7 linked regions of the Homo sapiens genome follow. The protein of the gene in region 3 purifies or fractionates together with the protein of the main gene of each other region. This does not show direct contact. Each region holds a gene or a part of one and is shown on either strand. Other genes may lie near its edges. The genes, in order: FAM114A2, PLCH1, KIR2DL1, STEAP3, FAM114A1, UBE4A and PHLDB3.

Evidence for each region.
Region 1: the proteins of KIR2DL1 (region 3) and FAM114A2 purify together in Homo sapiens (affinity purification with mass spectrometry; one large-scale study listed by BioGRID and IntAct). This does not show direct contact.
Region 2: the proteins of KIR2DL1 (region 3) and PLCH1 purify together in Homo sapiens (affinity purification with mass spectrometry; one large-scale study listed by BioGRID and IntAct). This does not show direct contact.
Region 4: the proteins of KIR2DL1 (region 3) and STEAP3 purify together in Homo sapiens (affinity purification with mass spectrometry; one large-scale study listed by BioGRID and IntAct). This does not show direct contact.
Region 5: the proteins of KIR2DL1 (region 3) and FAM114A1 purify together in Homo sapiens (affinity purification with mass spectrometry; one large-scale study listed by BioGRID and IntAct). This does not show direct contact.
Region 6: the proteins of KIR2DL1 (region 3) and UBE4A purify together in Homo sapiens (affinity purification with mass spectrometry; one large-scale study listed by BioGRID and IntAct). This does not show direct contact.
Region 7: the proteins of KIR2DL1 (region 3) and PHLDB3 purify together in Homo sapiens (affinity purification with mass spectrometry; one large-scale study listed by BioGRID and IntAct). This does not show direct contact.

The regions. Positions count from the first base shown.
Region 1 is NC_000005.10:154,028,911-154,032,410, forward strand, and holds part of FAM114A2 (protein FAM114A2), read right to left. Parts: intron 671-3,500; coding exon 579-670; intron 1-578.
Region 2 is NC_000003.12:155,483,072-155,486,571, forward strand, and holds part of PLCH1 (1-phosphatidylinositol 4,5-bisphosphate phosphodiesterase eta-1), read right to left. Parts: intron 3,136-3,500; coding exon of another isoform or gene 3,076-3,135; intron 2,979-3,075; exon of another isoform or gene 2,732-2,978; intron 2,640-2,731; coding exon 2,285-2,639; intron 306-2,284; coding exon of another isoform or gene 295-305; exon of another isoform or gene 278-294; intron 1-277. UniProt on the Homo sapiens protein: The production of the second messenger molecules diacylglycerol (DAG) and inositol 1,4,5-trisphosphate (IP3) is mediated by calcium-activated phosphatidylinositol-specific phospholipase C enzymes.
Region 3 is NC_000019.10:54,768,425-54,772,592, reverse strand, and holds the start of KIR2DL1 (killer cell immunoglobulin-like receptor 2DL1 precursor), read right to left. Parts: upstream 2,801-4,168; 5' UTR 2,743-2,800; coding exon 2,709-2,742; exon of another isoform or gene 2,702-2,708; intron 1,924-2,701; exon of another isoform or gene 1,745-1,923; coding exon 1,709-1,744; exon of another isoform or gene 1,656-1,708; intron 1,572-1,655; exon of another isoform or gene 1,529-1,571; intron 1-1,528. UniProt on the Homo sapiens protein: Receptor on natural killer (NK) cells for some HLA-C alleles such as w4 and w6. Inhibits the activity of NK cells thus preventing cell lysis.
Region 4 is NC_000002.12:119,240,834-119,244,333, forward strand, and holds part of STEAP3 (metalloreductase STEAP3), read left to right. Parts: intron 1-3,500.
Region 5 is NC_000004.12:38,943,523-38,946,239, reverse strand, and holds the end of FAM114A1 (protein NOXP20), read right to left. Parts: coding exon 2,683-2,717; 3' UTR 501-2,682; downstream 1-500. UniProt on the Homo sapiens protein: May play a role in neuronal cell development.
Region 6 is NC_000011.10:118,390,600-118,394,099, reverse strand, and holds part of UBE4A (ubiquitin conjugation factor E4 A), read right to left. Parts: intron 3,444-3,500; coding exon 3,296-3,443; intron 1,363-3,295; coding exon 1,205-1,362; intron 1-1,204.
Region 7 is NC_000019.10:43,477,675-43,480,746, forward strand, and holds part of PHLDB3 (pleckstrin homology-like domain family B member 3), read right to left. Parts: intron 1,920-3,072; coding exon 1,703-1,919; intron 459-1,702; coding exon 373-458; intron 1-372.

The sequences.
Region 1 (3,500 bases), on a different chromosome or scaffold from region 3:
ATTACGGTAATACTGTTTCTTACTCTGGGTGTTTCACACTGAAAATTCAAACAACACTTGTTACATTCTTCTGTATGTATATTTCAATAAAAAGTTAAAATTTAAAAAAAACTAGCTATCTATCCTCATGTAGCAAAGATATTTAGCTTCCTAGATAATCCTCTTACAAATGTTTTTAATCATACATAGTTTTGCAAATATCTGTCATAAAGATCACATTTCCCCTTTGCCTAAAAGATGCAACTATGAGAAAAATATTTTTGTAAAGTAGACATTTTTTAGGGCCACCAAATTAAGAATTCCTAATCCATAAAATAATACGTATATTGCCTCTCTGTAACTCCTACTCCCTTATTTATTGCTACTCCTTTATTTCCTACTTTCTTCCTTATTGCTTTAATGAAAGTTTTCAAGTAGCATTCACTCCACCCATAAGACCAAAGTGACCGATCTTCAGTGGCTTGGACTCCTTTAAAAGTAATCAGTCCACATGGCTGTTCAAAGAAAAGAGAGAGAAAGATATGCAAACCCATTATAATAATGGAAAGGAACAGACCACCTTGCACTTTTTTACTTACTGTGCTCTGAACAGCAGTAGAGATGGTAGAGAATACACCAAATGCCCCAGCCACTGGGGAGGAGTTTTCATTCTCTTTGGCATTTGTCTCTCCTACAAGAGGGAGGGGATGTGTAAACATGAAGGGAAGGTCCCTTAACTCTCAGGCTTTATTAGCATCTATGTGAATTTTTTAAAACTAGACCCTGCTTACTACATACTAGGCCTTAGCCCTTTTTATCATTTTAAACCATTTGCTTATTTTAAAATGAAAGCTAAGATAGGCAGTTTTCATTTTCTTTTCATTTCGAAAATAAAATCCAGTTTTGTAAACAAACTGCTGATATATACAACAGCCTATATGTTGTATGATTCCAATTATATAATCTTCTGGACAAGGTCAAACTGTAAGGTCAGAAAACAGATCAGTAATTGCTAAGAACTGAGAGTAAGGAGAACAGTGACTACAAAAGGACGTGAGAGAACCTTTTTGGGGTAATAAAAATTTTCTTATGTCTCAATTATCAATACAGATATAGGAAACATTCTATATATCTGTATTGATCATTCTATATAGAATGTTTTCTATATCTGTATAATCACAGTGTACTATGATTACACAGTATAAACAGAAGTATATATACTGATCAAAACATGTAAAACTGTACACCTAAAAAGAATAAATTTTACTGTGTGTAAATTATAATTTGATAAACCTGATTTTTAAAAATCCAGTCTATTTTAAATTTTATCCTAGAAAATTATGATTAGTAGAAATCAAACAGACATACATTACAAAGATAGGTATGTTTCAAAACAAAAATCCATTAACTTAAAAATTTCACATAGGAGAACAACCATTATACCAAATAATTTCAGTATTATCAAATATTATAGAGAGGACTTCCACTTCTAGCATGATGGATTAACTGGTATTAGATATGACCTCCTGCCACAACAACTGAAAAACTGGACAATATATAAGAAGCAACTGTCTTCAGACATAGGACAATAGGCAGTACAAGACTTCGGTTCACACAAGAAGAACAACAAAGTAAACCTTACAATTGGCTTGGCTTTCTGTATAGAGGAGCTTTCCAGGCCATGACAGAGGGAGGAGAAACCCAAGTAGGGCATGGCAATCAGTTTGAGTGGAAGAAACGGAGACTGGAATCTGGGAATGCTGAAGCAATCGGAATTTGCAGGTCAGAAAACCGTAGAGGAGGAAGCTACATAGCTAAAAAGTTCTAAGAATCCGCATAGGCATGCCCTAAGACACCTTTAGGTGTTTTTGCTTAAATACTGCACTGCTGAGGCACTGGGAGGCTCCATAAGTCTGTACAAAGAACTACCATGGAGCTCTAAGCTAAGCAATCCCCAGAGCTCACGCTAGGCTGAGAGACATTTGACCTCCAACCACAAAAGCAGAGACTTTATATTAAACACCTGGGAATTAAGGTGGAGACTTCGGAAGAGTCAAGCCTTAGCAGCAGAGATAAACAGTACTTAGTTAGAGTAAAGGCCACTATAGACTCACCCTAAACAAGCTTTACAAAAAGTCTTGGCCAGACACAGCAGCTTATACCTGTAATCCCAGCACTTTGGGAGGCCGAGGCAAGAGGATCACTTGAGGTCAGGAGTTTGAGACCAGCCTGGCCAACACAGCAAAACCTCACCTCTATTAAAAGTACAAAAATTAGCCAGGCATGGTGGCCCATGCTTGCAATCCCAGCTATTTGGGAGGCTGAGGCAGGAGAAGAACTTGAACCCAAGAGGCAGAGGCTGCAGTGAGCTGAGATCGCACCACTGTACTTCAGCCTGGGCGACAGAGTGAGACTCCCTCTCCAAAAAAAAAAAAAAAAGCCTTAAAGCATCAATTTAAGTTGCAAATACCTTAACTGCCCGCCGACAAAAGGAAAGCAGAAGATAGCCCCCTTTAAAGGAAGAAAACAAAATCCCTAATAGATGATCAATGATTTCCATCAATGGCCTATGCTTATCTCAAAATTCTGAAAATATACATGTTGACTACAAGACACATCCTTGGCAGAGGAATTAACCTCCTTCCTCAGGAACTTTAGAAGATAGAAGGGGTTTAGTATCAAAAGGCAGTCCATTGTAATTTTGGAAAGTTCTCCCTGTTAAACTCTTTATTAAACTAAAACTTAACTCTATATAACTTCCACTGAGTGGTACTAGTTACTAGTTCTCCCCATAAACCATGAATAATAAACCTAATCCTCTTCTCCATGCTAGTCTTCAGAAAAAGACCAGGATATTCTCCCAATCTCCCTTCTCCAGATTACCAGATTCAATCTCTTATAAGACTTTCTCTTGTAAGACTTTAATTCTAGACATTTCACTATTGTGAAAGAAAATAAAACTCAGGACCCCAAATTTACTATGCCAAAGGGAACAGTTAAGCTGAAAGCTAAGTTACACAAAAACTGTCTTTCCTTTTGTTCCTAAGCAGAAAGGCCAGACAGAAGGCCAGATGTTTCCACAGGTAGCTACTCTACGTTTACTTTATTTCATGTAAACTGCCAATTTACTGAGCATAAGACAAATACATAATTGACTCTACCTCTGCTCTTTCCTTTTACACGTAAAATGTGGATTCAGTGAACACTGATCAAAGATTCAAAAGAAGGCAACCACTTGCCCCTCTTATCTACCCTCCCCTTTCTTTACTTCCTCTTTCCCCTAGAGCCCACTCTTCTTCCTTTAAATATTGAAGTCACCAGACCCTCTTCAAAAAAAGTATGGAAGGTAGATTGTTTCTGTGGTTTGTGTTCCTTTTTCCCAGGTGCATCCTCAAACTTAGCAAAATAAACCTCTAACTTGATTGAGACCTGTCTCAGACACTTTTTGATTCACACTATCTAGCTGACTCTTTTCTGGATTCACCCAGTTTTTCAAAGCCCTTCTTAAAACATGGCCCTCT
Region 2 (3,500 bases), on a different chromosome or scaffold from region 3:
TTTAGGTGACATCTATCACTTTATGTAGGACCTGCAAACACTCATGTTGTCTTCGGACAGACAAATGGAGAATGTAAATCTGTTACACTGTGACAGAATATAATTATGGATTGCATAGGTTTGCAACAAAGTGTCTGTGTGATGAATAAATGGTAAAATATATTTATAGGAATTTCACTGGAGCTTCCCTTTGAATATCTATTACATCTGCTAAGGATGTAATATTCATTGTCAAAAAAATGTCAATGAGTTACCATACTTTTACAGTGAGGATTACCTTAAGTTGTTTCCTATTCAGATTTGTACTACACAGAAGCATGGCAATAGAAACAGAACAAGACAGCTCTGTTAAACAAAGCATTGTGGTACCTGTAAGCAAGATACTATAAGCTTTCAAAGTTATACATGTATTAGTTAAAACAAAAAAAGAAGAAAAGAAGAAAAACATAATAATATCATTTTCAAAACATTTTGGGAGCATATTTAATTTAGTCAATTAATTTCTAAAATAATTGGAAGGTGCAATAAATGCATTAAAATATCAATATCTGTTGAGTTAAAATGTAAAGATAAAAATTGGTCATCAATTCCATGTCATTGCTAATATCTAATTTTTTGTTAATCATATATTTCTTTTTAATACACAAATTTCATATTGCATCCTTCCCTAAAAGTGGCAGTAAGTTGTCAGGCACAGTAAAGGAAAACCATAAAAACACAATTCACAGTAATTTGGGATAGCCCATCATGGTTAGTATACTGCTAGGAGAGTATGAGGTATTCAATTCTTCATCAGATTATTTTAATAATTTAATGCTTTCAGAGTCATGATATATAAGAAAAAGAACTTGTTCAACTTGTTATTAAATAGTTTCCAAACTAAAAATATTCATCATAAAAATTTTGAAAACCTCAAAAAATTATAAAGAAAAAATTAAATACCATATGATGTTACCACTGAGACAGCCACTGTAAGATTTTGCAGAGGAACAGAATAATATATAGAATTTTGTAGTCTGCTTTTTCTGTACTTAATGCAACATAACTATGTATTGTTTTATATTTACCGAAACTTTAATACACATGACTAATTTATATAACTGTTTTTTAAAAGTAGACAAGAAACATTACCTCAAAATTGCTTTCTAACTCACCTTAATGGTATTAACATCTTAACTGTGGCATTAACAGATAGAACCAATTTCTACTGAATATAGCTTTATTTTTCCCAAAGATGGGGTTTTAAAATACATTTTAAGGCACATGTTTTATCTCTTCTCTGACACTGCTCTTAGCAAAATTTCAAGCTTTTAAATGTTCTTTTTCTCCTTCAAATAAACCACTGAAGAATATCTTGTAACAAAAATCAATACAAGTAAAATGGTGTTTGTGGGAAAAGAGAGCACTGAAATTAGACCATTTGATAAAAGTTAAAAGAATAATTTTGCTAAAGGAAATCAGTACCACATTTTACTTGTCTGAGATGATTCTGATTTAATTAAAACATATTTGTTGCAGAGATATCAAATGCACACAGTTTTGGCGCTTAAATTTACCCCCAGATAGGATGGGTTGGGAGTCACCAACATCAGTCAAAAATTCTCTGGCACACTGCAAGGCGGTCTTCACTCTTTATTGAGCTCCTGATATGAGTCAATGATACACTCAAATTAAGGAAAAAGACAGGCAGCACCTGGTCCCTATGCTTGTGGAGCCCACAACCGTGCTGAAGCTGCAGGCACACCTCTATCTCTGTCAGCATCCAAGGATCAGGGAAGTGAGGCCACAGGAAAACACTGCCTGAGCCACATCTTGAGAAAAAAGATTTGCCTGTTTTTGAAAAAGGTGGCTCGTTTTTAACATCTGGCTTTCTTTCTCCATAAACATTTCCAATCATGGAAATGTGTTATATGGTAAGAAAAGTAATACAACTATATTCACCCTCAAAACAAATCAGTAAATATGGCACTCATTTGGAAAATCAATATTTCAAATCCTATTTTGCAGGTTTCATCTTCCTCTCTGTGCCATCACACCTAATGGCTCCCCTATCCCTCACTGTCAATTTCAGATGTTGATATTATGAAGCTCTTGGTGAGGAGGAAATGGATCTACCTGGCCCCCAAAGTTTAAAATCTTCTGGTCTGGAAGATCACATTACAAAGTATTTATTTTTCAGTATATTTTACTTTGACTACAGAATGTCAGCCACTTCATAATGGTAAACAGGGACTGACATGCAGCCTAGAAGGGTTTATTCTCAGAGAAACTTAAAGCATCTTACCTAGAGAGTTTTCTTTTCCTTCAATGTCTTTTGCTGTTTCAGATACAGGCAGCGACAAAGCTCCCAGAAGGTTTCTGTCAACAGGCATAGAGACAGGGCGTGCTTGCAAACTGCGTGTGGTCCTCCTCAGCACGCCATCTTGATCTCTTGTGGCCTCGGACACAGAATCCTTTATCTCCACCATTTCTTGGAAGCCCATTTTGCTCTTTTTCCTGCCTTTGGCTGGGGCGCTAGCTGTGCGTCGCAGAATTCTATCTCCAATGGATCGCTTCCGTACATAATGGGAATTGTTTTCTGAAGAACTGTGCCTAGGATTCTTATTGAACAGTCCCTTCAGACCCTGGAGTTGTCTGTTCTGAAGACACAAAAGAACCAACCACAAGTTAAGCAAATGCCATCACATCAACAACTTGCCTTGAAAATGACAGCTCCATGAAAAATGAATATAAACCAAAATCGTACAGCCATTGAAATATATTCAAACCAAGAAAGCAGCAGCTCACAGCATGTTTGCACAACTTCATGCACATCTTATCAACCTTACTTTGCAAGGACTTCAGCCTTCCATTCTTACATCAAGCTTTCCCAGAAGTTTCCTACCCAGAGATGACAAAGTGGTAGGAAAAGTCTCCACAGCTCATAGACTGCTATGAACTTCAGGCGCCTTAAAGCAACAGATGCATGTTTCAAAGTGGTAAGCAGGAAGATGGAGTGATATGAAAAAGCATGCTGCCATAACCACTTAAAAAGAAATATGCCAGCCAGAACAAAGCACCATGCTGAGAAACTACCTTTGTAGCTCCTAGAAAGTGCAATATAGTATAACTGGGGTTGAGTATTAAAGGGCTCCACTGTAAAGGAAAAAAACAAAACACAACAAAACACAATTGGGGCTCATTGAAGAGGGTGTCACAAGTAAACACAAAAGAAAAAATGCATACATGTCTATAAACCCTTTCTCTTAGTTTTGGGGATTTTTAGTCTTATGCTCATTCATTGTTCAACCAATATCCACTACACTGTGATGTGTGGATCCCAACCCGAACACATCTTGAAAGGAATAAAGAGTATGACTCATAAATGGACATTTATTTAGCAGAGAAGATGGAGGTGATATAGAACACTTTCAGATTTTAATTTATTTCTGGCTCAAGTTTGTTTTTTTTTTTTTTTTTTTTTTGAGACGGAGTCTCGCTCTGTCGCCCAGGCCGGACTG
Region 3 (4,168 bases):
GCTAGGATTACATGCACCTGCCACCATGCCTGGCTATCCTTGTGTTGTTTCTTAACTTGTCCTTGACCTGGGTTCCAGTGTTGGTTTCCTGTTGCTGCTGTAGAAAATTATCAGAAGCATGGCACCAGGAGAGAGCACACTAACCCCTTCCAATTCTGGAGACAGAAATCGGACCCTGTTTGTCGTGGGTAAAATCAAGGCACCTGCAGGGCTTCGTTCCCTCTGGAGACTCAGGAGAATCAGTTCCTTGACTTTTCCAGCCTCTATAGGCCACCTGCATTCATGGCTCCTGGACTTCCTCCACCTTCAAAGCTGATGGAGACTCCCATTATGCTGCTGTAATCCCCACTCCCCTCTTCCTCCTCCTTTCATGTGGACCCCTGTGACTACACTGAGCCCATCAGGACAGTCCAGGCTGTCTCCCCATCTCAAGGTCAACTCATCAACAACCTGAGCTCCATCTTCTCCTTCAGTCCCTTCCCCTATATCATAAATAGTCACAGACTCCAGGGATTAGAATGTAGTCATCACTGGGGACAATTATTCTTCCCACCACAGCACCCATTTCCCTGTATTCAATCCCCCTTTACCCCAAATACAGTCAGGACTTGCATGATGGGACCCGCAAGGACACGCCCACCAGGAGCTCTGGGATTCAGGAGGTGGGACAAGGAGAATCCCAGACAGGAGCCCTCTGACCTGTGACCGTGATCTCCAGGGGGTTGCTGGGTGCCGACCACCCACTGGGGTAGTGTGGTTGTGAACCCCGACATGTATAGGTCCCTGCGTGTGCTGGGGTCACAGGGCCCATGAAAAGGCTGTTCCAGAATATTATGTTGTAGAGCTCAGGGACAGGCACCCCATCTTCCTTTTACAGACTGAAGTTGTTAAACCCAAGATAAGAATGACACTGAAGAATCACATGTCCTGGAGGCACCACAGGGCTTGGCCAGGCAGACAGCAAGGGCTTGTCCTGACCACCGTGGGGAGAAGGAGGCACCGCCTTAGAGAGGAGGATGTGGAGCCGCCCCTCCCTCCCTGTGCTCTGAAGATTCTCCTCGCTTTCCAAGTTTCTATGGCTGCTATCACACCTTGGTGCCCAGGGCTAAAGGAAGGACCCATCCCGCAAACACAAGGTGTCTCCCTACAACAAAAGTGTCAGCTGAGAACTTTGAGCAAGTGCTGAGTAAGAGACTCCTACTAGATTTTAATACTGTAAGATTACTCACATAAAACAACACAGGGTAGACATGGGGTGGAGGGCATGTCCTTTGAGAATGGAATATCAGCCGATGCCTGAACGAAAATAAACAACTGAGTCCCCATCAGAGGATTGGAATGTCAGGGCCATGGCTGTGGTTTTCCCACCTCTTCTGGTAGAATGACAGCAGCCACACTGCAGCCCCTACCGTCATGGAAACGCTGAAGTGTGTGAGTAACACCTTTGTCCTCAGAGGATCTGCTGTTCCTACCACTTCCCCACCACACACCCCAGCTTTGAGCACCGTAGTCTAACCCTGGTCCCCACAGAACTTGACTCTGCCAAGGGAATGAAAGGCCAGGGAGGCAAGGTCAGAAATGTGGGCCCAGCACCCCAGGGTCCCTTCTTCCTAGTTTATGAGAGACTCCCTGACAGGACTTCCCTCCCATTTCAGGAAAATCCTCTTATGTGGGGAGATGACACCCGAAGGTTGGGAGAAGGACTCACCCTCATGTGGCCAGGCCCCCTGCAGCAAGAAGAACCCTGGAAAGAAAGATCATGATGGATGACCCATCTGCAGGCAAACCAGGGCACCCTTGCTGCCCCCACTGGGCTGTGAGTCTTGGTAGCCAGGCCCTTCCTGGGCTGAAGGTAAACTCACCCTCAGTGCCTACCTGCACCCAAGAACAGGGCTGTCGGCTGTGCAGAGACCCAGCCTCCAGGTCCATATCCCCACCTCAAGCCCATATCTCCACTCCAGGCCCATATCTCCACTCCAGGCCGATATTTCCACCCTAAGCCCATATCGCCAATCCAGGCCCATATCTCCAATCCAGGCTCAGATCTCCACCCTGGGCCCATATCTCCAATCCAGGCCCTTATCTCCACTCCAGGTCCATATCTCCTCTCCAGTCCCATATCTCCACTCCAGGCCCATATATCCTCTCCAGTCCCATATCTCCACACCCAGGCCCGTATCTCCATCCTAGGCACATATCTCCTCTCCAGGCCCAGATATCGACCTCTAGGCCCATATCTCCACTCCTGGCCCATATCTCCACTCCAGGCCCAGATATCGACCTCTAGGCCCATATCTCCACTCCTGGCCCATATCTCCACTCCAGGCCCATGTCTCCACTTCAGGCCCATATCTCTACTGCAGGCCCATAACTCCACCTCCAGGCCCATGACTCCACTCCAGGCCCATATCTCCACCTCCAGGCCCATATCTCCCCTCCAGGTTCCTATCTCCCCTCCAGGTTCCTATCTCCACTCCAGGCCCAGATCTCCACTACAGTCCCATCACTCCACCTCCAGGCCTATATCTCGACCTCTGGGCCCAGATCTCCACTTCTAGGCCCATCACTCCATCTCTAGGCCCATATATCCACTCCAGGCCCAGATCTCCACTCCAGGCCCATAACTCCACCTCCAGGCCTATATCTCCACCTCTGGGCCCAGATCTCCATCCCCTCACTCCCTCCCTCTATTGCTTTCCAGGACTCACCAACACACGCCATGCTGACGACCAAGAGCGACATGGTGCTGCCGGAGCAGACAGGCAGCCGCGACCGAGCTCAGCTCAGCAGCGCACAGGATGTTATTTGGCGCCCTGCCCATGCAGTTTACATGTTGACCACATCATGGGAGGGTGACGTACGCAGGCTCTTTCTACCTTGCATGAGGCCCAGTGGGTGCTCGCTCAAGAGCGGAACACGGCTTCCTGGAAATTGTTCTCGCTAGAATTTGACACCTAGTGTCCTTCACTATGACCAACTCAAAACACGTCTGAGATCCAACCTCCCGAACACGAGATGCCTAAAATCTGTGCTAACATGAAAGACTTTTCATGTATTTCTATTGTTTTTATCTGAGATTCAAACTCTTCTTCCTGTGTAATATGCAAAATATCTAATAGGTATTATTAATGTTTTCAGAGTCATTGTCACTAATAAACCATTAGAATTTTTCATGCTTGTATTTCTAGTATTACAGCAGAACCAGTTAAAATGATTTAAATTCCCAGGGAAGGATTATGCAATTATTTACAATCTTAGAATTGTACTTTATCAGTAAAAACCCCACCTGTAAATTCTGGAGTTTTGTAGTTTAATCTAAAATTTGTCTCATGACCCAAGATTCCAGAGTCCCAACTCTGGAGTTTGTTTTCCGTCTGTCTCTCTCCCTCCCTCATTTTAAATTTTACAGAAATATCCAGTAACATAATGCTATAGAAAATCAAGTTTCCCCAGCACGTTGGGAAGCCGAGGTGGGCGGATCAACTGAGATAAGGAGTTTGAGAGCAGCCTGGCCAATATAGTGAAACCGTGTCTCTGCTAAAAATCCAAAAATTAGCCGTGCCTGGTGGCAGGCACCTGTAACGCCAGCTACTCAAGAGGCTGAGGCATGAGAATCGCTTGAACCTGGGAGGCAGAAGTTGCAGTGAGCTGAGATTGTGTCACTGCAGTCCAGCCTGGGCGACAGAGCAAGACTCCGCCTCAAGAAAAAAAAGCAAATAGCCTATAATAACAAATTAGAGAGCTCTGGCTACTAAATTTAAAGGGTTCTATAAGGCTACATAAAGTGCAGCATCATCAAGAGTGTGGACACAGAGAGCCCCTTAGCAGAAACAGTGTCTAAAGTACATCCGTGTACACACAGTCCCTTTAGAGTTGACAAAGGCTGCCGTGTGGTTTAAGGTGGCATAGAATGTCTTCTCAATAAATAATATTAAACCAATGGGTTATACCTAGGAAAAAATAAATCTAACTCACACTATAAAAACACTTCTTAGTTTTTATCTAGTTGTACATTTTTTATGATTTATATTTAAATTTGAGAAATAAAAGTCATATACGGTCATCCTTCACTATTCGTGGGTGATTGGTTTCGAGATCTCCACTCAGATACCAAAATCTGTAGATGCTCAAGCCTCTTATATGAAATGGCACAGAGTTTGCAAATAAC
Region 4 (3,500 bases), on a different chromosome or scaffold from region 3:
GGAGCCAGGGCCCAGACAGGGTTAGTCACACCCTCACCTCAGGCCGCAGGGACAGGCCTCTGGGACTTCCAAGACATGTACCACCTGTCCTGCCCCCAACCCCTGCCAGCCTTCAGCAGGAGGGTTCATGCTGAGCATCAGGAGGGGGCAGAAGAATTGAACGTGGCCACTGTCCATGAAGAAGTTAGAGAAGAGTACACACAACACACATGCACACAAGAATAGGACACGTGCACACACACACACACATGCATACAAGATTAGGAAACACAAGTGCACACACAACCAGTCAGAAATGAGCTCTGAGCTTTTACACATATTAACTCATTTCATCCTCAAACAGTCTTTAGAGAGGTATAATTAGTGTTCCCGTTTTAAAGGTGAGGGAACTAAGGCACAGAGGAGCTATGTAACTCACCCAAAGGCACCCAGCTACTGGCATGTGAGGCCATGATTTCTCCCCAGCAGCCCCACCCACAGCCCGTGCCTTTAACCACCTGCCTGACCCCTCCCAGCCAAGTGGCTCCGTCCCTACATCAGAAAGGTCAAGGAAGAGGCCGCCTAGGGAGCAGTACAAGGCAGCATTACAACCTGGCATTTTCCTGTTGCAGACTGCATTTTGGTGGCAAGAGAAGCTTTGGAGGTGCTTAACGTTTAGTTTGCATTTATCCTACCGCTGAAAAGCAGGGACCCTTAGGACCATAAGTCTAGGACTTTTCATAGCACCCTAGACTGCTGGGGATGAAAGGGGCTTGGAGCTGAGCTGGTGCAGCAGCTCCTGTTAGAGAAGCCACCCAGAGAGGCCCAGGGACCTCCTATGTCCCAGCGCCAGTTAGGGGCAGACGTGGGACCAGCTCCCCTCGGCTGCAGCGGCCTCCATATCAGCTCCCTGGAAGGGAGCAGATGCCAAGTCAGGTTCTGAGCAACACCCTCAAGGCCCAGCCCTGGCAATCCCTTCCCACCTGTGATTAGGTCTGGGGTTCAACAAAAATAGGACTCAAAATCTGGATCTTCTCGCCTTGCTTCACTTTGGGCTGGTTCAGTTTTGTTTCGAGGTAAATCATTCGAGGTTTTTCAGGGATCCTCAGATGCATGTCTGCGTGAAGCCGTCCTGGCTTCCCCTTCGGCTGCCCCCTGGGCAAGAGCCTGGGCCATACCTGTGCCATTCCTGAGCTCTGTCTCTAGCTGCCCTATGTCCAGTCATTGGCGATGGGTCTTATTCAAGCCCCCTTTCCCCCAACCCACACTAGATTGTAAGCCCTCAGGGTGGGGACCGCTTCTCACTCATCCTTATATGCTTAGGAGTGTTCAGCACAAAGTCACTCAGGAGATGGCAGGCAGCGGGGAGAGGGCAGAGACAGAGGAGAGGCTTCTGTCCAGAGGGTTCCTACTTAGGATCATCCAAATCATCAGCAAATGTTGGAAAGATGGTCTGGGGGCCTCAGGCTGGCTACTCTTCCTCCCCATCAGGGCAAAACTCCCCGGGGGCTTGTGTCTCCCTGTGGTTGGGGACAGGCCTGGGTGTATCTGTCCCAGCCTTGACTGACCACAAGGGGAGACTTGGCCCTCCCGACCACAGGAGAAGAGGGATTTGAATTCACCTCGGCCCAAATTGCAGATGCTGGCCTGCGAGCCCTGAGGCCATCTGCAAGGCTCCTGGGCTGACATAACTGTCACCCAGCTCTTCATCCTCCTTCCCCGGGGCTGAAGGGGTGCCTGCAGGGTCTTCTGCCCTCCCTCCACCTGGGCCCTACTGCTGGCACGGAGCTTCATTTCTGTTGGCAGCCAGTGTTTGCTTAGTGATTACTGAATGCCGTTTGCTGGGTGCTTATGATGTGCTCAGCACTGTTCTAAGTGCTTTACACAATTGACTTATTTACTCCTACAACCTGCCCATAAGGGAAGTGCTGCCATGGTCTCCCTTTTATAGCTGAGAAAACTGAGGCACAGATAGGTCCATGGTCACACAGTTAACATAAGGCAGAGTCAGGACCAGAATCCAGGCGGACTGGCTCCAGAGCCCGGCTCCTGGACCGAGCAGCCTTGAGTAGGGACCTGGTGCAGACCCGCCTGCCGTGGACTCACTATAGGATGGGTCAGGAGGCCCGTTGTCACCTACAAAATGTAGCCCACCACCCAGGAAACGCTCCCAGAACCAGGCAGAAAATACTGTCTCCTATTCACAGGGTGGCTGTGCCTGGCGTGAGTGTCTTGGCGGGTGCCTGCATGTCTGTGCAGGAGTGCCACCCCCATCTGTGGACTCGGAAAGCATGATCCCCACAAAAGCAACCCCTCAGAGTCTCAGCTCAGCCAATCCCTGTTATCCTGTGACAGGCAGGGCCATGTTTCAAAACCATGTTAAAGATGAGCAAGAGGCTAAGGAAGTTTCCCATGCTGGCAGAGGCAGGACAGGAACACATGTCCCCTGACTCTTGACATTGAGAATGCACCCCCTTCCACCCACCTGGCCTCTTGTCCCAGCCAGTGTGGTCCCAGCTATGCAGCTCTCTGGGACATCTCTGGAAAGCTCATTGTTCTCTGTCTGGGCAGTAAGACGGAGTGAGGCTCTGACTGCCGAGGCAGACAGACCTGCCTCCTGCTCTTCCTCCCCTCAATTATTTGTGCTGCCTGAAACAAGTTCCTGAGCCTCCCTGAGCCTCAGTTCCCTCCTCTGTAAAGTGGGAATGATAACTGAATCTACTTCCTGGGGTTCTTGTGAGGACCAGAGGCCCATCACCCGAGGAAAGGCCTGACAGCAGCAATGGGTGTATGGTAGGCATCCATTAATAGGAACTGCTGCTGCTGCTGCTGCCTTATAAAAGGAAAAATCACAGTTTCAAAAACCTCTTAAGATTGCATGATTTGTCATCTGAGAGCAGAGATTGTGATCTCCATTGACAAAGATGGAAGCTGGGGCCCAGGGAGGCACACAGACTTGTCTGAAGACACACAGCTGCTTCATAGCAGAGCCGGGCCCAGCCTCCTGGTTCCCCTGCCCCATCTTTATGTCAGTCCCTGGATCCACTCCCTCACCTGGTCAGGTGTCCAGAGGTTCCAGGAGAGTGTTGTGGAAAAGTAGGAAGAGGCAGACGCCCATGGAGGGTGTTGAAAGCCACCCCAGCTGCTCTGCTGCTTCAGGGCAGGGGATCTTAAGCCCTGTGGAACTGTAGGCTGGTGAAGCTTGTGGACTTCTGCTCAGAATAATGTTCTTACATGCACCAGACAAAATAGCTTAGGGTTACAAATGAAATATATTATATGGAAACACAGCGAAAATATTTTTTAAAAAAGACTACAGTAGCATTAGGCATGCTTCTTTATTAGCACATTAAATGACAAGCTCTAGTGGCAGATCTAATGTCTACCATAATTTTATTTTTACTTTTATTATTATTATTATTATTATTATTATTATTATTATTATTATTTTGAGATAGTCTTGCTCTGTCACCCAAACTGGAGTTCAGTGGTGCGATCACTTCAGTCTTCAACTCCTGGGC
Region 5 (2,717 bases), on a different chromosome or scaffold from region 3:
GACGGGATCTCCCTCTGCCGCCCAGACTGGAGTGCAGTGGTGTATCTTGGCTCACTGCAACCTCTGCCAGCCAGGCTCAAACGATTCTCCTGCCTCAGCCTCCCGAGTAGCTGGGACTACAGGCGCGACCCACCACATCCGGCTAATTTTTTTGTATTTTTAGTGGAGACAGGGTTTTACCATGTCTGCCAGGCTGCTCTCGAACTCCTGACCTCAGGTAATCCGCCCACCTCAGCCTCCCAAAGTGCTGGGATTACAGGTGTGAGCCACTGAGCCCTGCCACTTGTTTCTCTTTTACATTTCCACTTAATATCTAAACCCATCTGATGCAAAAAACAAAACAACAAAAAACAACAAAAAACTGATGTGAAGAAATTGTAAATCTATATCATTTCCTCTGCCCTACACATAAAAAGTCTAAAATTGATGAAGAGGTAAATGCAACATTTTCATCAGTTAATCATTCTCTAGACTTAATAAAAACATTTCTGGCAATCAGAAAAGGGGAAAAATCTTTAATTGATTTCTCAGGTAATTTTTTTCCAGATTGTACATAAAGTGTTCTTATGTTCTCTATTTGGATGTTTCAGGAGACATACAAATGAAATACAGTACATAGACAAATGAAATGCTAATAAGAAGTAGGATGATATTAAAATATCCTTACTTTGCCTGTATGGAACAAAGGCAGTCTACTCCATCGGGGAATCAAAGCAAATGTGAATAAGAGGTTTCCACCTTGCAAAACTGTGAGCTTCATTTGCCCTGGAGAGAACTACTAGGCAAGGCTTCACATGACAGTACCTGTAGGGATGTCCATGGGGCTGTGAAGCAGGTGTATTGTATCGAACATGCAGCTGCAATGAAGGCGTGGAGCTCAGGAGAAGCAGCCACTGACAATGCCCCTCCTGGCCGCAGGGTCTTCTGTGCAGCCTCCCATGGATCAATATACCAGTTAGTTAAAACACACATCAGTATTTTCTGTCCTTTAGCAACGATGATGATATTTGCCACCAGCGAGTGTGATCTGTGAGGCGATTTTAAAATGCAGTCCTGGGATTCTACTGTATTGAAACACCTTTGATTTTCTATTTGAATACTTCCAAGCTTTGTAATTATGCCACCATGTGCTCGTGATCGTAAGAAATTAATTTTAAACTAAATATTCTTCAGTATCCCTTTTCATATATATTTTCACCTCATATACATAGTTTGGGATAAAATAGTGTAAAGAGTATAGGAAAATGCAACAAATTAAAGGGTAGGACATTAAATAAAACACCAATTTACCTTGTTCTTCAAAGTTTTTAAGGTTCAAAAATTTATTGGTATTTTAAGCCAGTGGTCCCCAACCTTTCTGGTACCAGGGACCGGTTTCATGGAAGACAATTTTTTCACGGACTCGGGGTAGCGGGATGGGGGTGGGGGATGGTTTCGGCACGAAGCTATTCAACCTCAGATCATGAGGCATTAGATTCATCAGGCATTAGATTCTCATAAGGAGTGCACAACCTAGATCCCTCGCATGTGCAGTTCACAACAGGGTTCGCACTCCCATGAGACTCTAATGCTGCTGCTGACCTGACGGGAGGCAGAGCTCAGGCAGTAATGCAAGCTCTGGGGAGCAGCTGTAAATACAGATGAAGCTGTGCTCACTCACCCACCGCTCACCCCCTGCTGTGTGGCCTGGTTCCTAACCAGTGCCACGGACTGGTACTGGTCTGTGGCCTGGGGGTGGGGACCCCTGTTTTAAGCAGTTTAAGAATTATTCTTTTTCAGAATATCTACCTCTACTGGGATAAGATCACGTTTCTTTACTGTGAGCACACAGTAGGTGCTCAATAAATGCTTGTTGCAAGAATGAATGACCGGCCGGGCGCGGTGGCTCAAGCCTGTAATCCCAGCACTTTGGGAGGCTGAGGCGGGCAGATCACGAGGTCAGGAGATCGAGACCATCCTGGCCAACATGGTGAAACCCTGTCTCTACTAAAAATACAAAAAAAATTGGCTGGGCGTGGTGGCACACACCTGTAGTCCCAGCTACTCAGGAGGCTGAGGCAGGAGAATCGATTGAACCCAGGAGGCGGAGGTTGCAGTGAGCCGAGATTGTGCCAACGCACTCCAGCCTGGCGACAGAGTGAGACTCTGTCTCAAAAAAAAAAAAAAAAAAAGAATGACAATATGTTCCTATTTTTTACCATAATAGGTAAAATCTATAAGTAGTGTTATTTTTGCCTGCGACATTTATGTAACAAAACAAAGTTCAGTTTTAGAATTGATTTAAAGTAATACTATAAGAATGGAACATTTAAAGGTTGAAACATAAAGGATTAAACAAAAGTCTAAGGTCTCCCCATGAGTTTCTAAATATAGCATGCTTAACCAGGAAAATGAACACGAATATTTGTAAATAAATTTCAGATGAAAGGAAATTTTCAATATAAGCTGTGTAAGTTTAAATTAACATAAAGAAAACACAATTGTTTGTAAAAACAATTATACACATTGAGAGAAATGATAACTCTCTCTAAATTTGCATTCTCAATATTGTCTGTGCAAAATTGCTTGTAGTGTCCTCAAATGGATGTCTGTGGCCAGGCGCACAGAGAACATCCCCTTAAATGGTACATATTGAGGCAAGGCGGCCAGCTGTCTCCTTTAACTAGATGGAGTCTGGCCAGGTCACGGCTGTGCTTTCAAACAACTGGTCTGGATAT
Region 6 (3,500 bases), on a different chromosome or scaffold from region 3:
AAGTTAAGGGGCCCATTAAGCAGCTAATAAGCTACCATTTATTGCTTCATTCCTGTCTTTTCTATAGTTATAATGGGGCAGACTGTCCGAAGAATAGGCAGGCTGGGGAAAGTTCATGGTTACCACAGCTGATACAACAACAGCAACAGAACGTGAGTTAATCCACATGGTGAATATAGTGTAAAACCTGAATTAGAAAAAGCAGGCTGGGTGAGGTGGCTCATGCCTATAATCCCAGCACTTTGGGAGGCTGAGGTGGGAGGATCACTTGAAATCAGGAGTTTAAGACCAGCCTGGCCAATATGGTGAAACCTCATCTCTATTACAAATACAAAAATTAGCCAGATGTGGTGGTGCTCACCTGTAGTCTCAGCTATTCGGGAGGCTGAGGCTGAAGAATCACTTGATCCTGGGAGGCGGAGCTTGCAGTGAGCTGAGATCGCGCCACTGCACTCTAGCCTTGGTGACAGAGCGAGACTCTGTCGCAAAAATAAAAAAACAGGCCAGGCACAGTGGCTCACACCCGTAATCCCAGTACTTTGGGAGGCTGAGGCGGTTGGATCGCTTGAACCCAGGAGTTCAAGACCAGCCTGGGCAACATGGTGAAACCCTGTCTCTACAAAAAATACAAAAATTAGTTGGGCGTGTTAGTGCATGCCTGTAGTCCCAGTTACTCCAGAGGCTGAGGTAGGAGGATCACCTGAGCCCAGGCTGGAGTGCAGTGGTGCGATCTCGGCTCATTGCAACCTCTGCCTCCTGGGTTCAAGCAATTCTTCTGCCTCAGCCTCCTGAGTAGCTCAGACTACATGTGCGCACCACCATGCCCCTCTAATTTTTTGTATTTTAGTAGAGACGGGGTTTTACCATGTTGGCCAGGCTGGTCTCAAACTCCTGACCTCAAGTGATCCACCTGCCTCGGCCTCCCAAAGTGCTGGGATTACAGGCATGAGCCACTGCACCCGGCCAGAAATTATTTTCTTAAGGCAGGAAGAGGTGAGGTTAGAGTTAGCATTTCTCAACAGAATGTTTTGTTTTGAAATGTTTATATCCTAGCAATTGAAACCAAAATGTCTTCCAACATATCAGTAAATCAATAATATGTGGTATGTGTTGGGTGCAAAGTACTGTCTTAGGTGCCTGGGAGAAAAAGATAGCAAACTAATATATATATATGCTCTTGAGTCTGTTTTTGGGACTGGCCTACCTGAGCAAATGTCTTGCAATGGTGGATCTATCCACAGTGACTCTGGAAGATGGCAGCACCACAGGGTCACACATCAGTGTGCTCATAATGGGATCCAGGAACTCATCACAGGCATCTGCATAGGTTTCCTCTTCCTGTTGTTGGAGGTCTGCAAGAGACTGAGTATACAACATCTGGTAGTTAAAGTGAATTCACAGTGTAGCTGAATTCAGCGTGCTCAATGACAGAGCAAGACTCCATCTCAAAAATAAAAAAACAGGTCATTAATAACCCTTGACAGTGACAGTGACACACGTGAGCTTCATTTTCTCAAAAACAAGCCAAGATATTCTAAGAACAAATTAAGCATTGAGCCCCAACTCTGGACCTTTAGGTTGGCTCAGCTGCTGGCAGTCATACTGGAAATGGGTTTAAATGTTAGGAGGAAAAGAAATACATCAGATATAACATCCATCTGGCAACAGTTCTGTTGTAAATGCCATAATTCAAAAGTGGATGGAGAAGGGAGAATGGAGGAGGGTATTATTTGCATAATTAGAGTCACTCATGCAGCCTGCGTATGAAAAGCAGTTTTTGATTTTTGATACAAACAGGTATAGGAATTTTAAAGTCATTTTGACATTTAATTCCTTCACAACTTGAGTTCCTCAGGGATCCACCTGGCTAAGCTCTAAACAAAGATGAAGTCCAACTCAATAAAAAAGAAACTCAATAGAGGGAAGACTGACAGCAATAAGGAAGGTTTTCTATTAGACTTTTGTGCCATGATCTTCCTTCTTCTTACCTGCTAATAGAGCTCTGTCATACTCTAACCAAAGGGATTTAGCTAAATACAATATAGTATTTTAATCTTTAAAATGTATGCATATTCCAATAAAAGCCAACTACCAACTACAAACATAGAGACAATCCAAATAAAAATTAATGACTGAAAACTACTCATCTTTTTTTTTTTCTAAAAAGTTATTCTGCATTAACACCCTAGCTTTTAAAATCTATTGGTAACACTGTGCATAAACGTTTTCATAAAAACATCTTACATAAATGTGCACATTCTTCTCTTCTAGTTGAGGTTTCTTAAATTTTTTTTTTTTTCTTTTTTGAGATGGAGTCTCGCTCTTTTGCCCAGGCGGGAGTGCAGTGGCACTATCTTGGCTCACTGCAAGCTCTGCTTCCTGGGTTCACGCCATTCTCCTGCCTCAGTCTCCTGAGTAGCTGGGACTACAGGTGCCTGCCACCACGCCCGGCTAATTTTTTGTATTTTTAGTAGAGATGGGGTTTCACCGTGTTAGCCAGGATGGTCGCTATCTCCTGACCTTGTGATCTGCCCGCCTCGACCTCCCAAAGTGCTAGGATTACAGGCGTGAGCCACCGCGCCTGGCCCTTAAATTTCTTTTTTCTTTTTTTTTTTTTGAGATGGAATCTCGCTCTGTTGCCCAGGCTGGAGTGCAGTGGTTGCGATCACTGCAACCTCCGCCTCCCAGGTTCAAGCGATTCTCCTGCCTCAGCCTCCCGAGTAGCTGGGATTACAGGCGCCTGCCACCACACCCAGCTAATTTTTGTATTTTTAGTAGAGACAGGGTTTCACCATGCTGGCCAGGCTGGTGTTGAACTCCTGACCTCAAGTGATCTGCCCACCCTGGCTTCCCAAAATGCTGGGATTACAAGCATGAGCCACTACTGTACCCAGCCGATTTCTTAAATTTCTATTCTCACTCTCATGTTGACAAGAATAAAACTAAGAATATTGTAGTTCTAAGTGACTGTCCAAAAAGAACCATCTGTTTATATTTTCTCTTGGTAATGCTCTTTTTCTCCCTGAAATAGAGTAAAAATCAGCACAGCTGAGGTGACAATCTGATTTTTTTTGCATGGATTTTTAGGAGATGGGGTCTTGCTATCTTGCCAAGGCTGGAGTGTAGTGGCTATCCACAGGCATGATCATAGCACACTGCAGCTTCAAACTCCTGGGCTTAAGTGATCCTCTAGCCTTAGGCTCTTAAGTAGCTGGGACTACAGGCTTGAGCCATCATGCCTGGCTGACAACGTGGTTCTTAATGAAATCAGCAAACAATTCCTCCTCTTCCTCACCTTGATTCTCTCTGCCAAGTTGCTGAAAGCCATAATCATATTCCCAGGCTTATTTATTTTCTTCAAGACTCGAACTGTCTGTGCAAAGAGAGTTGGGGAATAGGAACGTCCATCCTTGGGCACAGTGGCACAGAAATTCTCCTCATCCCTGGAACATTAGCATCAGAAAAAAACTGATCACCAGAGGGTTGGTCAATGGAAGAGA
Region 7 (3,072 bases), about 11 Mb from region 3:
CACGGTGCCTGTAATCCCAGCTACTCAGGAGGCTGAGGCAGGAGAATTGCTTGAACCAGGGAGGCGGAGGTTGCAGTGAGCCGAGATGGCGCCACTGTACTCAGGCCTGGGCGACAGAATGAGACTCTGTCTTAAAAAAAAAAAAAAAGAAGAAAATTAACAGTGGCTGAAGGCCAGAGTCTGGGCTCTTAATTTTTAGTCCCTGCAGTCAGGTGACCTGTTTGTTTTCTCTGCGACAAACACGTACTCCTATGAGTACCCTGACAGGAGAAGCTGCGGGTGGCTTTCCCCAGGATGAGCCAGGGATGAGATAAGGCCTGACTCCAACTGAGTCTCCAACTGGGAGGTCAGGGTGACATTGAGGGGCTTCACCTTGAAGGCACAGCGTAAGTGGTCATAATAGACTTCCTCAATGGCCTGGAAGTAGATGACACCTTTGAGCTTGGTCTCTTCCTTGTCTGGTAGGGGAGGTAAGAGAAAAAGAGAGCCAGTGAGAAAGGTGTGTCTGTGTGTGTCGAGGTGAGGGTCATTGGCCCTAAGTCCTGAGACTGGATTTGGGTAAGAAACATGGTGACAAGAGTCTGAAGGTCTCTAAAGGTTGGGAGGTGAGTGAATGTTAACGCTGGATGGGAGACTGGGCACAGAAACTGGACATGATTGGGGAGTGGGGTCTGTGGAGCTGGAATCCTAGGCCCTGAATGCTCGGCCTCTGAGAAGGGAAGGAACTCAGGGAGTGCTCAAGTGCTTTCTAGGTATAATCTCTAACCCTCTCAAACTCTCCTGGAGGGGTAAGTACATTTATCTCCATCTGACAGATGTGGAAACCAAGACTCAGAGAAGTTAAGGCACCCAGCACAAGTCACACAGCCAGAGCTGACAGAGCCAGGACTCACCAAGTAGAGTCAAATGGTCATACAGGTTAGGGAAGAAGGATTTGAGACAATACAAGCGTCCAAGGAGGCTGGGTGCAGTGGCTCAAGCCTGTAATCCCAGCACTTTAGGAGGCTGAGGCAGGCAGATCACAAGGTCAGGAGATCGAGACCATCCTGGCTAACACAGTGAAACCCTGTCTCTACTAAAAATACAAAAAATTAGCCAGGTGTGGTGGCATGAGCCTGTAGTCCCGCCTATTCAGGAGGCTGAGGCAGGAGAATCGCTTGAGCCGGGGAGGTGGAGGTTGCAGTGGGCTGAGATCGCACCACTGCACTCCAGCCTGGGCGACAGAGCAAGACTCTGTCTCCAAAAAACAAAAACAAAAACAAAAACAAAAAAAAGTGTCCAAGGAGAGGTTTGGAATAATTGATTCTCCTAGAGAAGAAGGACAAGGGCCCCAGACTCCTGGCCATTGGGGGGCTGGGGGCAGCTGACAGTGCAGGTTCAGACTCATGGGTGTCTTAGGAACATGGGCCCTGGGAAGCTTGAATTGTACTAAACTGTTATCTATGTCCCTGAGGAGGACTGGGGGTTTGAATTCTGGGTGGCTTAAAGAGGGGCTGGGGATCTGGATTCCAGGGTCTGGAGGAGAGAGAGAGCTGGGAGCCTGGACTCCTGGGTTGTAGGGAAGTTAGGAGCTAGGGAACCAAACTTCTGGATCCTGGGGAACATGGAAAGTGGGGGCCAGGACTTCTGGTGCCTGTAGAGGAAAGGCCTCCGGAGTGGAATTCCAGCGTCCTGGGGCCCATGGTGGCCAGGCTGGGCTTACCCGCATAGTAGGCCAAGCGGCGGGCTTGGCGGTCAAAGCAGAACCATCGCTTCCTCCAGGTCTTGATGCGGCCGCCCATCTTCACCAGGGGTCCACGGCAGCAGCACCCAGACACCTGCACATGTGGGCAGTTTTCCGGGTTGTGGCCCCATCCCTCCAGATGCTGCCGGAGATCCAAGATTCGCGGGCCTGGAGGGTGGGGTGGGGTGGGTGGGGCCTGGGGAGCAAAGAGACGGGGCAGCTGATGTAAGGGGCGGGGGATTCTACAGCCTGGAGCCCCTCGAGGGGAGCAAGTCATAGCAGCTTGCATGTAAGGCCCGCTACAGCCTTTAGAGGGTAATATTAACTAGGACCATCTGACAAATGCAACGGCTACGTGGATTGACTGTGATGCTCTGCCCAGGACTTTATGGACATCAGCTCCTTGGCACTTCATGGCAACTGTGAGCCCCATTTTACAAATGAGCAAAATGAGGTACAGAGAGATGACATAATGCACCCGAGGTCACACAGAGCTTCTAGGCAGCAGAACTGGGACACGAACCCAGGTATTTCTGACCCTAGAGCTCACCCTGAAACATCAGAGGCCTATCAAAAGAAATAAAGATCGGGCCGGGTGTGGTGGCTTATGCCTGTAATCTCAGAACTTTGGGAGGCTGAGGTAGGAGGATCCCTTAGGCCTAAGAATTCAAGGGCAGCCTGGGCAACATAGTGAGATCCTGTCTCTGAAAAAAAAAAATTTTTTTTGGAAAAAAGAAATGAAGATTGGAGCCTGTGTGGTGGCTTAAGCCTGTAATTCCAGCTACTCAGGAGGCTGCGGTGGGAGGATCCCTTGATCCCAGAAGTTGGAAACCAGCCTGGGCAACACAGAAGACCCCTTCTCTATTTAAAAAAAAAAAAAAAAAAAAAAAAAAAAGGAGAGAGAGAAGAGAAGCTATGTGCAGTGGCTCATGCCTGTAATCTCAGCACTTTGGGAAGCTGAAGTGGGAGGATCACTTGAGGCTATGAGTTGGAGACCAGCCTGGGCAATATAGTGAGACCCCATCTCTACTAAAAATCCAAAAAATTAGCTGGGCCTAGTGCTGCACACCTGTAGTTCCAGCTACTAAGGAGGCTGAGCCCAGGAGGATCACTTGAGCCCAGGAGATCGAAATTGCATTGAGCTATGATTGCACCACTGCACTCCAGCCTGGGTGATTGAGTGAGACCCTGTCTCAAAAATAAAAAAGAAAGAGAGAGCTTGTTTACATTATTATTGTTGTGATGAAATTAATGAATATAATCCTCTGCTAAGTACTTTCTAGGTATAATCTCTGCCCCCTCAAACTCTCCTGAAGGGGTAAGTACATTTATCTCCGTTTCACAGATGT